Linked DNA regions of Homo sapiens. The protein of the gene in region 1 purifies or fractionates together with the protein of each later gene. This does not show direct contact. Each region holds a gene or a part of one and is shown in the gene's direction. Other genes may lie near its edges.

Evidence for each region.
Region 2: the proteins of UQCC1 (region 1) and THSD4 purify together in Homo sapiens (affinity purification with mass spectrometry; one large-scale study listed by BioGRID and IntAct). This does not show direct contact.
Region 3: the proteins of UQCC1 (region 1) and MGRN1 purify together in Homo sapiens (affinity purification with mass spectrometry; one large-scale study listed by BioGRID and IntAct). This does not show direct contact.
Region 4: the proteins of UQCC1 (region 1) and TMEM131 purify together in Homo sapiens (affinity purification with mass spectrometry; one large-scale study listed by BioGRID and IntAct). This does not show direct contact.

Annotation. Positions count from the first base shown.
Region 1 is NC_000020.11:35,303,974-35,307,473, reverse strand, and holds part of UQCC1 (ubiquinol-cytochrome c reductase complex assembly factor 1), read left to right. Parts: intron 1-694; coding exon 695-808; intron 809-3,404; coding exon 3,405-3,500. UniProt on the Homo sapiens protein: Required for the assembly of the ubiquinol-cytochrome c reductase complex (mitochondrial respiratory chain complex III or cytochrome b-c1 complex). Involved in cytochrome b translation and/or stability.
Region 2 is NC_000015.10:71,741,471-71,744,970, forward strand, and holds part of THSD4 (thrombospondin type-1 domain-containing protein 4 isoform 1 precursor), read left to right. Parts: intron 1-3,500. UniProt on the Homo sapiens protein: Promotes FBN1 matrix assembly.
Region 3 is NC_000016.10:4,652,326-4,655,825, forward strand, and holds part of MGRN1 (E3 ubiquitin-protein ligase MGRN1), read left to right. Parts: intron 1-352; coding exon 353-499; intron 500-3,500. UniProt on the Homo sapiens protein: E3 ubiquitin-protein ligase. Mediates monoubiquitination at multiple sites of TSG101 in the presence of UBE2D1, but not of UBE2G1, nor UBE2H. Plays a role in the regulation of endosome-to-lysosome trafficking.
Region 4 is NC_000002.12:97,789,949-97,793,448, reverse strand, and holds part of TMEM131 (transmembrane protein 131 precursor), read left to right. Parts: coding exon 1-54; intron 55-464; coding exon 465-1,063; intron 1,064-3,500.

The DNA of each region.
Region 1 (3,500 bases):
TGCTCTGTAATCTTTAAGCTTCCCAACAGAAGTCTCCTCTGCCAAAAGAGGCAGCGTTAGGCACACACACACATGCAAGCTCTGAGCCTGGCCCTCTGTGGCCCCAGCAATCCTGCTGAACATCCTGTTCCCCTACTTAGGGAGAGGCTGGGCCCAGAGTTGGGTAAGAGTGAAGACAAGGTAGCTGGCTCCCTTCCCCCAAGGACCAGTTGCCTTGCCTTGGTCCTTGGACCAAGCAAGAAGGCACAGTCCATGCCCACCTCCATTCCTGGGAGAAACATACATTCACAATATTCCCAGCCCGTGCCCTGTGGACAGCAGGGGGAGCATTGCTGCTATGGACAGCAGGGGGAGCATTGCTGCTACTGTTTCTCTTCTCAGCCTCTCAAGTGTTGCCTGGGCCAGGCGCAGTACGGAGTACTGCCTGAGTCCCAGCTCTGCATCACCTAACTGGTGGCTTGGCCCCTCTGGACCCCCTGTTCTCCCTCTGTATGTAATAAAATGAAGGGATTGGGCCAGATACCCTTGTAAGACCCCTTCCACCTCTACTGTGTGACTGCCCCATTTTCCTCTTGTGCGTGGAGGGCCCTTCTGAGCTGATTCCATGGTTGCTAGCATGTTCATAGTATCCCCACCGTCTGTGTCCTGGCTCTGTGGATCCCTCAGGAGACCACTGCTGTGCTGTATGTTCCAGGGGATCCTTTCAGATGATCATGGGCTGGCCGCTGCCCTCTGGAGAACCTTCTTCAACCGGAAATGTGAAGACCCTCGACATCTTGAATTGCTGGTAGAGTATGTGAGGAAACAGGTGAGTGACCCTTTCCCTCCCCTCCCAAGTCCTGGCAACAGTGGGTCCTCCTCTTGGGCTTTCAGGGGATCATGAGAGGTGGAGTTACCAAGGACCAGCCTGAGAGAATTCTGACCAGATCACATCAGCACTAGACGCTGAAGAAGGAGCGCCTTCTGTATGTCCAACCATGAACTGGGCCAGGGAGCGGGAAATGGGAAGAGAGAGAGAAAGAGGCATCGAGTAGTCTCCTGCCCTCAGGAACTTTGAGTCATTCATTCACTGTGCACCTCATTGCCTACTGTGCGCCCAGTGCTATGCTAGCAGCTGGGCCCACAGAGTCCTGGCAGATATGAGCACGTGGTGTAGTAGCAGCTGCCCACTGTGGACCCCTTCTCTACCCACTTGGATTTGTTTCCTGCTCCTGACTTCCAGCAAAACTGGGCAGCAGGCAGCATTTCACAGACAGCCTCTTCCTGCTAGATGCTCTCCACAGTCAAGTAGAGTCCCCCCACTTCAGTTTCTCACCCCTCTGGCTCCCCAGGGCTCCCCGACATCAAAGCTTCTACGAGAAAGCTCCGCAGTGGGGGCTGCTTACCCACATAGCTGTCCTCAAGCCCCGGGGAATTAATTCCTTGACCTCCCTGCCCTCAGATCCTGTATTGATGGGAAACTCATACTTGATAGATGAGTGAGCTGACTGGCAGCGAAGAGGACATAGAGGCTCTTCCAGGGCCTCCCAGTGAGTCAGCCTGCACAGCTGCCCTAGGGCCCCAAGCTGTGTGATTCATGTGACCACTGAGGCCTCAGCTGCCTCAGACAGCTCAGGCTGTGCCATGAGTCACACCTTTGCTTCATGGCCTGGCCCCTGGAGCTGAAGGGGTGTCACGCCACAGTTACTCTCTTGTTCACTTGTATTCATGGTCTTCAACAACCAGGAAAGGCAAGGCTGGACTTCAGCTCTTGAGAAGACAGGGCCCATAGGACTAGCTTGTTAACTGCTGGAAAAACCACATACTGGGGCTCTGCAGACCCACAGGGTAGAGAATCCCAGGAGCCAGGACTTCTGTTTGACCACTCTTCAAATCTGCTAGAGCCAGGGAGAGGGCACGGCATGGCCAGAGGGCCCCACTCACAGAGAATTCTGATACTCTGTTGACTGGACTCACCCTCAGACGGGAGTAGCAATTCGCAAAGCAAATGCTGTGTTTTCTGAGAGACCTGCCCAACATTTCCATCTGCCATGGTGGGCTTGTGCCAGAAGCCCCAACAAGACACACTGGGACTTCTCCGAGGGCCCTCTAGGAAGGGGCTGCCACAACCATTGTCCCTACAAGAGGTCCCATGTGGCCCCAGTGAGAGGCAGTGGAAAAACCGTGAAGGGGTTCTTGGGAAAGCAGGGAGCTTTGGTGGGGACCCAGTTCTATCAGCAAACCTTTTGAGCACCTGCTGCTCCATGTACTCTTGGGAAAGCAACGATTAATAAGACCCAGTCCTGCCCTCGAGGAGCCAGCTCATGGTTTGGTGAGGAAGCCCAGGCACACGGCTAACCCTGGAGTAAGCCAGCCTGTTATGTGATACAGGGAGGGCAGAGTGCTGAAGGCCGGGAAAGGAAGAGCAGGAGCTGGGCCTTGAGCAGACTGTTTGGTGTGGCCGATGGCCCAAGAGCCAACCAGAGGTTCTGTTGAGATTTTCAACCCAGGAGGTGGGCAGAGGGGTGGCACTGGGGGCAGAAATGGAGTCACTGTAAGGGAGGAGTGGGCTTTAGGGAAGAGATGGCAGGGCAGGTGGGAATCCAGAGCCAAGACACGTGCGAGAGGCTGGGGTTGAGTTCAAGCGTCAGCAGCTGGAAGCGGAAGCAACCAGAGTGGTGGATTCTTGGAAGGGGGAATGACCTAAAGCCTAAGATGAAGTCTCCTGGCCCTGCAGCAGTGGCTTCTCTGGATGATGACCATTTTAATGGCAGAGCTGTCTGCCCCTACTGTCCTAGAGAGGTGATACTGGGGCCCACTGACCAGGGGCCCACTAGAGGACAACAGAGGCATACATATGTTTAAAGCGTGAGTGCCTAGCACTGCATATATGCATATTGTTGAATCTCTTCATGTGTCCTGTGAGGTACCTGTTTCTATCCCCTCTCTCAAGACAAGGGAACTTAAATCTCAGAGAGGGGAAGCTGCCACCCTGGGTAGCAGCACTGGGAAGGGACAGAATCAGGACTCTCACCCAGCAGTGCTGGGGTGGACAGCATGGCTGTGTGCGCTGCAAGCCCTGACTTCCTGGCCTGCAGGAGCTGTCTAGGGAGGGCGTGTAGGGGAGACGTGTCCTTGGGAGGTGTGTGTCTGTCTCCATTCAGAGGTGTGATAGGGAATTCCCTAACTGCCCCCGCCACCCAGCTCCCCAGTGACTGCTTTCTCTGAACCACCTTAGTGAAATTATCTAGGAGATCAGAGACGGCTTGGCCTGGGACGGCTTGGTCTGGGACCTGGGATGGTCAGAAGCCCCCCTCATGCCCCGTCCCCTTCCTTCCTCTCCTCTGGGAGGCTGGTTCCTGACGCTGGCTCCTCACCTCTGCCCTGCCTCTGTCGCTTCCTCCTTCCCCCTCCCCTGGTTGCAGATACAGTACCTGGACTCCATGAACGGGGAGGATCTGCTTCTGACAGGGGAGGTGAGCTGGCGCCCTCTAGTGGAGAAGAATCCTCAGAGCATCCTG
Region 2 (3,500 bases), on another chromosome or scaffold:
CAACAGAGCAAGACTCCGTCTCAAAACAAAACAAAACAAAACAAAAAAACTGAACAATCTCTTTCTCTAGATTTCCATATGATTTTGTTTAATCTTCTGTCCTTTGCATTGCAGAAACACACACACAGAAATTCACAAGAGTGTGAGGTATGGGACTGAGCATGCACAGGACCCATTTTCAATATTTAGCCCATATACACCCATGTGTGCATGTACACACACACACACACACACACACACACACACACACACACACACTCGGCATCTGCCACTCAGAATGTCTGAGGCGACATGTCTAGCTCTTCTTTACCCAGTAAATGGCACCAGTTCTCAGGCCCAAGAGATACTGAAGAGGTGCCTTGGAAATAAAGCAAACCTAGGGATGTGTTGTTTCTCATCCCTCCCTTCTCTGGCAATCCTAGTTCCTTTTTCTTTCAAGTGACAAGTGGCAGCGGCCCGTGGAGGCCTCTCCTTTGCTCTGTCCCAGGCGGTGATGGCACCAGACATGCAGGGTAGGTGAGGCAATGCGGAGGCACAGATGCAGAGCACATCTAATGGTCGTCAGCAGTCATGGCAAGTGACCAGGAAATCCCAAGCCTCCCGGCATTGTCCAAGTCACTTATGCACAGAATAAGTCTGTTCCCCTTGTGATCCCATTGTGTATTTTCTCACATACCCTCGCCTAAACCCTTCTCCAGTCCTCCCTGGTGGAGCTAACCACACCACACAGTTCTGTGCTTTTCATGGTCAAATTTCCCTTTGTCTAAGTGCTTCCAGCATCATGATATCACCATCTCAGGGAAGGGCCCTGTTGCTGGCATCCAAGAGTGGTCCATACTCACACAGCCATTGATCAGGCCTCTGTCAAACTCTTGGCTTGTTTCATTTGATTCCTAGAGTTCCAAGTCTAAAGTCATTTACTTTTTTCTTGCTCTTTATTTTGTCTCTCTTCCATAATGTCCCACTGACCTCTACACTAGCCCCTGAATTCACTGACCTCATTTATTATCTGCTAATTACCTGTGTACAGTTCCCCCCTTCAACATGACATATTTCTATTTTGATCAACATGTCCGCATATAAGGCAACCGAACTGATCTCGAATAGTTTTCCTGCTGCCTGAAGCCCAGCCAGTGCCTGACCTCACCACCTTGTTCCTGCTTGCTAGCAAATAGAGGAATAATTGAATTGCAATCTTGAACAATGGGAGGTGGCCAGGTGCTGTCTCCCTTTCTAAATATATTAAAACTGACCCAAAGAAGGAAACCACTGCGGTCACTAGACTCAAGAGTTGTAGATATGGGTCAGGCGCCGTGGCTTATGCCTGTAATCCCAGTACTTTGGGAGGCCGAGGTGGGCAAATCACCTGAGGTCAGGAGTTTAAGACAAGCCTGGACAACACGGCAAAACCCCATCTCTACTAAAAATACAAAAATCAGCCAGGCGCAGTGGCAGGCACCTGTAATCCCAGCTACTTGAGAGGCTGAAGCAGGAGAATCACTTGAACCCGGGAGGTGGAGGTTGTGGTGAGCAGAGATCGTGCCACTTCACTCCAGCCTGGGTGACAGAGCTAAACTCTGTCTCAAAAAAAATAAAAAAAGATTTGTAGATCTGGCATTTTCCCACCTTCAGAGAGCCAGAGGGCCTCTGAGTTCATTTCCGTGGAGCTGGACCATGGACAATGTCCATAAACGCCGTAAAATGTCAAGGGAAGACAAGCAGTGGCCAGGTGCTGGACAACCCCAGCAGGACCCATCTTCCCAAGACACAGAGCATTCCTATGGGAGCCTGTATCCTTTTGATTAAAAAAATTTGATTTCTCCCTTATTTGAGTGCCAAGTGGTTGAGATAGTTCCTTTTGCTTTCCTATCCACAAACATCTAAGTGGAAAAGCTAAACCCGCATGGTCTGAAGGAAAAGGAATAGGCTAAATAAGATCTTTACTTAATCCCTTAATAGCCGGGTCCCACTGCAAGCTGTGAACCATGTATTCACCTTTATAACTGCACAGTGTACTTAATGTTTGTTGAATTTAATTAAAAATCTGTTCTATTTAATGGAAGGAGATCTGTAGCTGGACAAACTTTAATTCCACAAAAGTTCTTTGCATCCCATTAACTTTACAGTCAGTACTGCCTTTTACTCAGCCAATAATTGTGCTTAATTGGAACGTTATTTTAAATAATGGTCTCAAGTTATAGCCACACTGTAAATTTTTACTACCAGGGTAATTTAAACAAATGATCGTTTCAGATTCAACACTGTCTTGCAAACTGTCAAGTTTCTTACTACCCTCTGGGTCAGTGTGTCATACAAGATGAGCTTGAAAAACCACTGAAACACTTTCATGACTGATGAAATATTAAGATGTTTATGTTAAAAGATAGCCCCTATGTTGCAGTTAAAATTGTAAGGAGTTGGAACTTCAGAAAATATGAATGCCTGGCCAATTAGCAACAGAGATAAGACAGAGTTGTAGAATAAAGTATAGTGTTCTTCCCGGCAGGAGTTGTATACTGGCCTGGACTGTGGGGAAGACAGTTATTTGTGAAGAAGCATCTTCCCGTGGTTGGTTCAGGTTCAGGGGTTACATTTCTCACGTTATAAACGTCCATTAATAATAGCTCAGTGTTGCCACCAGGTGGCAGCAGAGAAAGGAAGGCAGAATTGAATCAGCTTTTTTTTTTTTTTTTTTTTTTTTAATTGACACCTAGACATTCCATTTAACAAATTCTGGCTTTTTATCGAAAATAGATGTATCCTTATTAATCCAATGAAAGTAAAACAAAAAACCTAAAACAGTTATAAACATTCATTCAACACCATTCAAACATTCATTCAACACGGTCATTTATTGAGCCCCTGCTACTCTCCTAGGTACTGGGGCTACAGAGATTAAGAAGTAGCCCTGTCCCTCAGAAGCTCACGGTCTCATGGGAAGTAGACAAATGCTCAGATCACTGAAATACCATTGGATGGGTACTTTATTAGAAGAACATGAAAGACGCTTGCCAAAGGGGGAGGCAGCTGCTCTTCCGCCCTTTCTTGAATCTTCTACTTCTGTGCTTCAACCTATCCCTTAAATGTACCTGGTGTAGCAGGCTAGTTTGTCAGGCAGGTACTTTCATTCCAGTTTAATGACCTAGACAGCCTCCTCCCTCCAAAATATACATGCACATATCTACCCAAACCCAATTCTTTCTCTAGAACGAAGCTTGGCCCATTTAGGACACTTTCTCTTTGACGCTTCCAGAGAACTTTAGAAAAGTTACTATTTGTGTTCCTTCTATAATCATTCCCCTGCCTAGGGAATCTCTCTTTTGTTATCTTGAACTATAATGAAGATGCTTTGTATCTGCCTTTGAGCATATTTAGACCGTGTCCACAAATAGATTATTGATTCCTTTTAGGGCAGGCTCTTCTTTGCACCCCCACAGTTCCTAGCAAAGACCTGTGAGGTAGGTGTGTGTAAACCCTCAAATGAAGGGGGAGCGTAAGTG
Region 3 (3,500 bases), on another chromosome or scaffold:
GGGGTGCTGCAGACTTCCTGCCATGCACAGGACGGCCCCCCCACAGACAGGAATGACCCAGCACCAGATTTCAGCAGGTTCAGAAACTGCTTAAACCGACTAGACTTGAGGCATCTGGGGCTGTCTCTGAACCAAAAGCACGTACCCCGTCTTCTGTGGGCAGGAAGAAGGAGAGGCAAGCCCTGGACCACTGGGCTTTCATGTACAAATAGGAAACAGCCCCTATGTCTACTGGAGAAGCGGGCTGTGTCCACATAGCCACCTCCACGGCCCCTCAGCCTGGCAGGGGAGGAGGCAGCCTCCGCAGATGGGGCCGCTGACCCGCTGCCTTTCTCTCCACCGCCTGGGGTAGGTACAAAGACGATGCCGACAGCCCCACCGAGGACGGCGACAAGCCCCGGGTGCTCTACAGCCTGGAGTTCACCTTCGACGCCGATGCCCGCGTGGCCATCACCATCTACTGCCAGGCATCGGAGGAGTTCCTGAACGGCAGGGCAGTGTGAGTCCCGCGGGCGGCTGGCACCGGCCTGGCTGGGGGCCCCAGACTCCTGGGGGAGGCTTCTGTCCACCTTACTAACCAGAGGGAGAAAACCAAACCGTGCTCTTTGACCATACTCCCAGGACTTTACCACGATGTGAGGGGTTTCTCCCACCCCAGGGACTCCCCACTTTTCTGCGGGAACCAGCTGGGGTCCTTTGACTGGTTTCAGTTCCAACGCTGCCTGGAGGTCATGCAACCCCTGCACTTTGAGGGCCCAGTCCCACAAGACTGCCCCACTTCAGATGCCACTCATAAGCCCCCGCTGTCACCTGAACTTCTCAGCAACCAGCCATAAATCAGGCTCCCACAGTCCCCTCCTCAGGCTTGATGAGTTGCTAGTGTGGCTCACAGAACCCAGGGAAACACTTGGCTGGTGTTTGTTGGTTTATTGTAAAGGATTCAGATGAAGAGGTTCACAGGGTGAGGTGTGGGGGAAGGGGTGGGGCGCACCACCTTCCTCGTATTCAGCAAACCAGAAGCTCTCCTGAAAACCCCATTTCAGGGCCTTTTCTGGAGGCTTCATCACGTAGGCAGGATTGATGATTAACTCCATCTCCAGCCCCTGTCCCCTCCCTGGAGGATGGGGCTGGGCTGAAATTCAGTTCCAGGTTTTTGTTTTGTTTTTGTTTTGTTTTGTTTTGAGACGAAGCCTCACTCTGCTGCCCAGGCTGGCGTGCAGTGGCACAATCTTGGCTCACTGCAACCTCCGCCTCCCGAGTTGAAGCAATTCTCCTGCCTCAGCCTCCTGAGTAGCTGGGACTACAGGCACGTGCCACCACGCTTGGCTAATTTTTGTATTTTTAGTAGAGATGGGGGTTTCGCCATGTTGGCCAGGATGGTCTCAATCTCTTGACCTCATGATCTGTCCATCTCAGCCTCCCAAAGTGGTTTTTGTTTGTTTTTGAGACAGAGTTTCGCTCTTGTTGCCCAGGCTGGAGTGCAATGGTGTGATCTTGGCTCACTGCAACCTCCGCCTCCTAGGTTCAAGTGCTTCTCCTGCCTCAGCCTCCCGAGTAGCTGGGATTACAGGCATATGCTACCATGCCTGGCTAATTTTGTATTTTTAGTAGAGACGGGGTTTCATCATGTTGGTCAGGCTGGTCTCAATCGCTCGACCTCAGGTGATCCACCTGCCTCGGCCTCCCAAAGTGCTGAGATTACAGCCGTGAGCCCCCATGCCCGGCCCACCTGGCCCAGGTTTTTGTTTGTTTTTCCTCGGGAGCTCTTAGACGACACTTCCAAGTCTCTAATCATGGCTTGGTCTTTCTGGCAGCCAGCCACCTCCAGGAGCCAAGAGTCACCTCACTGGCACATAAGACACTCCTACCACCCGGGAAATTCCAAGGGTTTGGAGTTCTGTGTTGGGAGCAAAGGTCAAGGAACAAATATTAGAACAAAAGAGGCTCCTAGCACCCCTGTTGCTGAGGAAATGACAAGGGTTTTAGAGGACTCTGTGTCAGGAACTGGGGCTGGGACCAAATATTTATTTTTTATTGTGTCATAATTAGATATTTGTACTTTCAGAGGTTTTATTTGAGATAAGGGTCCTTCTGGCCCTGAAAGTTTGAAAACTGCAACTTCAGCAGGAGCTGGCAGGACTGCCTCCAGGCTACAAGGGCACATGTGCCCCAAGTGGCTTTAGAGACAGGCAAGAGCGTGCCCCCTGCCTTCCTGCACTGGAGCACACCGCTCAGTGGTCAGCTTTGCATCTGGGGATAGGGTGTGGTTGAGAGCCTAGGCTTTGAATGCTGTCCCCGCTGAGTGGCTTGGGGGCACATGACTGCTTGTGCCTCTGTGTCCTCAGCTGGAAGTTCGGGTGGGTGGTGTGAGGAGGGGACCATGTGTCCTGTGCACAGCCCCTCGCGTGACAGGTGCTCTTGAAAGGAGCCTGAGTGCTCGAGTTGAGGGGCTGGTGGAGACGACTTATGTGGGGAGGTTCTTAGGGACCTGCCACCAGGTGAGGCCGCCCTTGGGCTCTGGCCTTGGGCTCCCCGGCAGCCAGGGCTCCTCCTGTGGAGCAGCACTTTGGGGAGGAACAGGTTCCTTTTTCTAGACTTTGTTCTTTGAGGCTCTACCTTGCCCCGGCACTTGATTATATTTCTTTAATGACACTAGTAATGCATGCCTGTGTGCTATGACAGGCGTCGAATTCTTGGGCGTAGGAGCATTTGGAGTGACCAGGGCAGGCCCCTCTGTCCCCTCCTTGCACCCCACTGCTTGGGGTTGAGTGTTTGACACCCACGGGGCCTGGTGCCCTCCTCGGGCCTGGCCGACATGGTGGAGGAGCTGGGTTGTGGCGAGGTGTCCAGGGGCTGCCACAGAGAGGGTGTGGGCTGAGGACACAGGCCAGTGTAAGTTGTCTATCCGCTGCCCCCCAGTGCTCCAGCTGTCAGGGGCTGGGTGACCATCTCAAGTGCACTTGAAGAGAGGGTCCCGCTGCTACCAGAAAGGCTAGAGAGAGCAGAGAGGGTGCCCTGCCAGCCCTGGCTGGTGTCACCCTCTCCTAGACCCCTGCGGGCTAGTGATGAGAGAAATGCCACAGTCCCCCCCTCTCAGGACCTGGCACAAGGCCAGCTTCCCCTCCCAGCAGGAATCACAGAGCAGGAACAGCTCCAGTGCCACTGTCCCCCTCTGTCAGGACCTGGTACGAGGCCTGCTTCCCCTCCCAGCGGGGATCACAGAGCAGGAACAGCTCCAGTGCCACTGTCCCCCTCTCTCAGGACCTGGTACGAGGCCTGCTTCCCCTCCCAGCAGGCATCACAGAGCAGGAACAGCTCCAGTGCCACTGTCCCCCTCTCTCAGGACGCGGTGCAAGGCCAGCTTCCCCTCCCAGCAGGGATCACAGAAAAGGACCTGGAGGCTCCAGGACCTGGAGGCTGTGCCCAGGCACCCGGACACCATCCAGCCTGCCAGTGCTCCATCCATTTGAGCTGCAGGGCAAGCCACCCTCCCTGCCTCC
Region 4 (3,500 bases), on another chromosome or scaffold:
TGTGGGAAGGCCATTTGATCTCAGGAGAATCGTTGGTATTTCATCTGAAGGAAAGTATGTTCACATGCTGGCAATAAATTCCCTAGTGTACATAGATTTGGCTGATAAAATTACAATAAAAAATAAGTTTCTTTTCATCTTTGCTCAGGAGAAAAAAAATCTTAATTCTGATTACTTAATAACACCCTGTATGGAACTCTGAGTGACTTAGAGCTCATGCTGGATACTGTGTTTTTATTATATTGGTAAGGGTTAAAATACTTTTAGTTAGATCACTGATGGTAAATTATAAATGTTCAGATAGAACAGATGTTAGAGAGTTGTAGAAATTTCCCTATTTCTTGCTATTTTTTCCCTAGTGTAGTTTATATTTATGGTGGCTGTACTGATGAAGTTGAAGTTTTTTTTTAATATTAGATTTTGTAGGTTGCTATTTACTGATCTGCAGTTGGTCCCTTTTTCAGCTTGAACACACTCAGCTGTGACCCCGGTCACAGTAGGGGGTTCTGTGGAGCAGGCGGTTCATCATCCCGACCCAGTGCCGGGAGTCATAAGCAGTGTGGCCCATCGGTCCACCCACACAGCAGTCACAGCAATAGAAACTCAGCTGACGTGGAAAACGTCAGAGCCAAAAACAGTTCAAGTACCTCTAGTAGGACTTCTGCTCAAGCAGCTTCTTCACAGTCTGCTAACAAAACAAGCCCCCTTGTCTTAGATTCGAACACAGTGACTCAAGGTCATACAGCGGGCAGAAAGTCCAAAGGGGCAAAGCAGAGCCAGCACGGCAGCCAGCACCATGCCCACAGCCCGCTGGAGCAGCACCCTCAGCCTCCTCTGCCACCGCCAGTGCCTCAGCCCCAGGAGCCGCAGCCTGAAAGGCTGTCTCCCGCCCCCCTCGCACACCCTTCCCACCCAGAACGTGCCAGCAGCGCGAGGCACAGTTCCGAGGACTCGGACATCACCAGTCTCATAGAAGCCATGGACAAAGACTTCGACCACCATGACTCCCCAGCCCTAGAAGTGTTTACAGAGCAGCCTCCATCGCCATTGCCAAAAAGCAAAGGTAATCATCTCCCACTGCCGGAGATCCGTGATGTGTGAGGGAAAAGCCAGTGCGTGCTTAAGGAGCTATTAAGATTATAGTTGTGGTAAACAACTAATTCAGTAGGTTCCTCTGGCTCAGATTTATCTCCAGTGTTGGACTTCAACTTTTCCATAAAAATGCAATTAGAGGTATCTGTCATAAAAGATATATTTGTATTTCTTAGATTGTTTACCAAAATCAGAAATTCTGTGGACATCTGCTTTTCTTTTCAGCTGCCTGAGATTGTGTTATTGTGATAGATTTAGCTTTTGTTTTATTGTTAAAATAATTTTGAGCACAGGAGTAAAATGGAGATCATCTGCCTTTTAACTCCAAATTAGGATTTCTTTACTTTAGAGCAGGGGTTGGCAGACTACAGTTAGCGGGCCAAATCACCACCTGGTTTTATAAATAAAGTTTTATTGGAATAGAACCATGCTCATTTGTTGGTATATCCTCAGCTTTCATGCTTCTATGGCACAGTTAAGTAATTGTGACCAAAACAATATGGCCCACAGAGCTGAAAATATTTGCTATCTGGCCCTTTGCAAAAAAAGCCAACCCTGCTTTAGAGTTCTGCTTACTGTATTAATTACCTATTTCTGAGTAACAGATGACCTCAAAACCCAGGGGCTTAAAAGAACGTATACTCTTATCTCACAGTTTCTGTGGTCAGGGACATGAGTACAGCTTAGCGGGGTCCCATGGCCCTCACAGGACACAGGACTGCAGTCAAGGTGTTGGCCAAGGCTGATGTCATCTTAAGGTTCAACTGAAGGTGGACCTGCTTCCACGTTCACACAGGCAGTTGATGGTGGGATTCAGTTCTTCACGGACTGTTGGACGGAGGGCCCAAGCTCCTCCTTGCTGGCTGTGGCCAGAGGTCTGTCATGGTTCCTCTCCACAGAGCGGGTCACAGCTTGGCAGTTGGCTCCCCCAGAATGAGCAAACAAGAGGGCAAGGAGGAAGCAGGACGGAAGTCACTGTTTCTTACTATCTAATCTGGGAAGTGGCATCCCATCAATGTTGTAGTATTCTGCTCATTCGAAGTGTGGTCCAGCCCACACTCCAGGAGAGAGAACCGCGCAAGGGCATAAATACCAAGAGGTGGGCACCACTGGGAGCTTGGAAGTCTGCACCACACACAAATAGGTAGACCAGTTTGTAAGCTCCAGAATCAAAAGGTAAAAACCAGTAAATAGCCTCTAGTTGTATTGCAATTTCATCCCTTCACAGCCTGAGCTTTTTTGCATCTTCCTTTCTGTCTTGTGGCAGCCATGCTAATATACATTATTCCAAGCCTGTATCAGTCCCTTCCAGAATGGTTTACCAAGGAGTTTTGGGCTTCAATTTATACGGAAAACAGGGATCTTGGCAGCCCTAAGAGGCCAGAAGAAACTTGACATCCCAGAGTCAAGGAGTTTTAGATAATTTTTTAGTCCCAGGAATACAAAAACTAGCTCTATTGAGTTCTCTTGGAATTACACGCATTCGGATTTGTAAAACAGTAAGATGTCTTGAATATGATTGGTTAACCTCTTCTACAGAAATCCTTTTTGGCTAACCCATTATTAACTGAGCTTACATATTTTAGGGTAATTTTTAGAATAATCTTAAGTGAATACTTAAAAGTTCTTTTTTAATTAGATCAAGTTACATAGCGTTTTCCCCACATTTAGGGCGTGAATAAAATAAATCTGTATTATCCTTTCTTATCACAAAGAAAGAGTTGGGCAGTCAAATTGACTACCTCATTCCTGTGTCAACACAGTCTTCCAACACCAGCGTGATGGGCCAATTCTATTTTCAGGGTCACTCATTGAGAACCTAAATTTTAAAATGAAATGCTTTTTAATTTTCACAGTGGTCCTAGAGTCAACCTACTAAGAGATACTCAGTGAGGGAGCATGGATGCCACATTATTGGTGACTCTTGAGCCTGTGAGGAGACAGTGGTTAGAAGCTTTGCAGGCGCGGCTACTCTACTCACTATCCTTCCCACTGATGCTGTTTGGGAAAAAGGAAGGAGCCTGTATCTATATTTTTTTTCTTCTTCAATGTTTTTATTGAAGTATAGCATGCATATAGACAGACAGTCTTTAAAATGAACTTTAAAAGGTGGGCATTGATCTTGGGGTTGCAAACTAGTAGTATGTTGTGAAACTATAGGCTTCCAGCTGGGCAAAACCTTTATAATCTTTCAAAAGCCTACCCCCACACCCCTGCAAATAGCAGATTTACATTAAATAGTAACATTCTCTTTTTAGAGGCAACACGTTCTTTTTTTTCTCCCCCTGGTATCTCATACTAAAATTATTTCTTATAATGAGCTTATGTAGTTTCTGGTTTTTGGAAGCTGCTCAGGATGACCTCTTCAAGTGAATGTGTTTATCTCCCTGGATCTTGCCTTCTGCGGT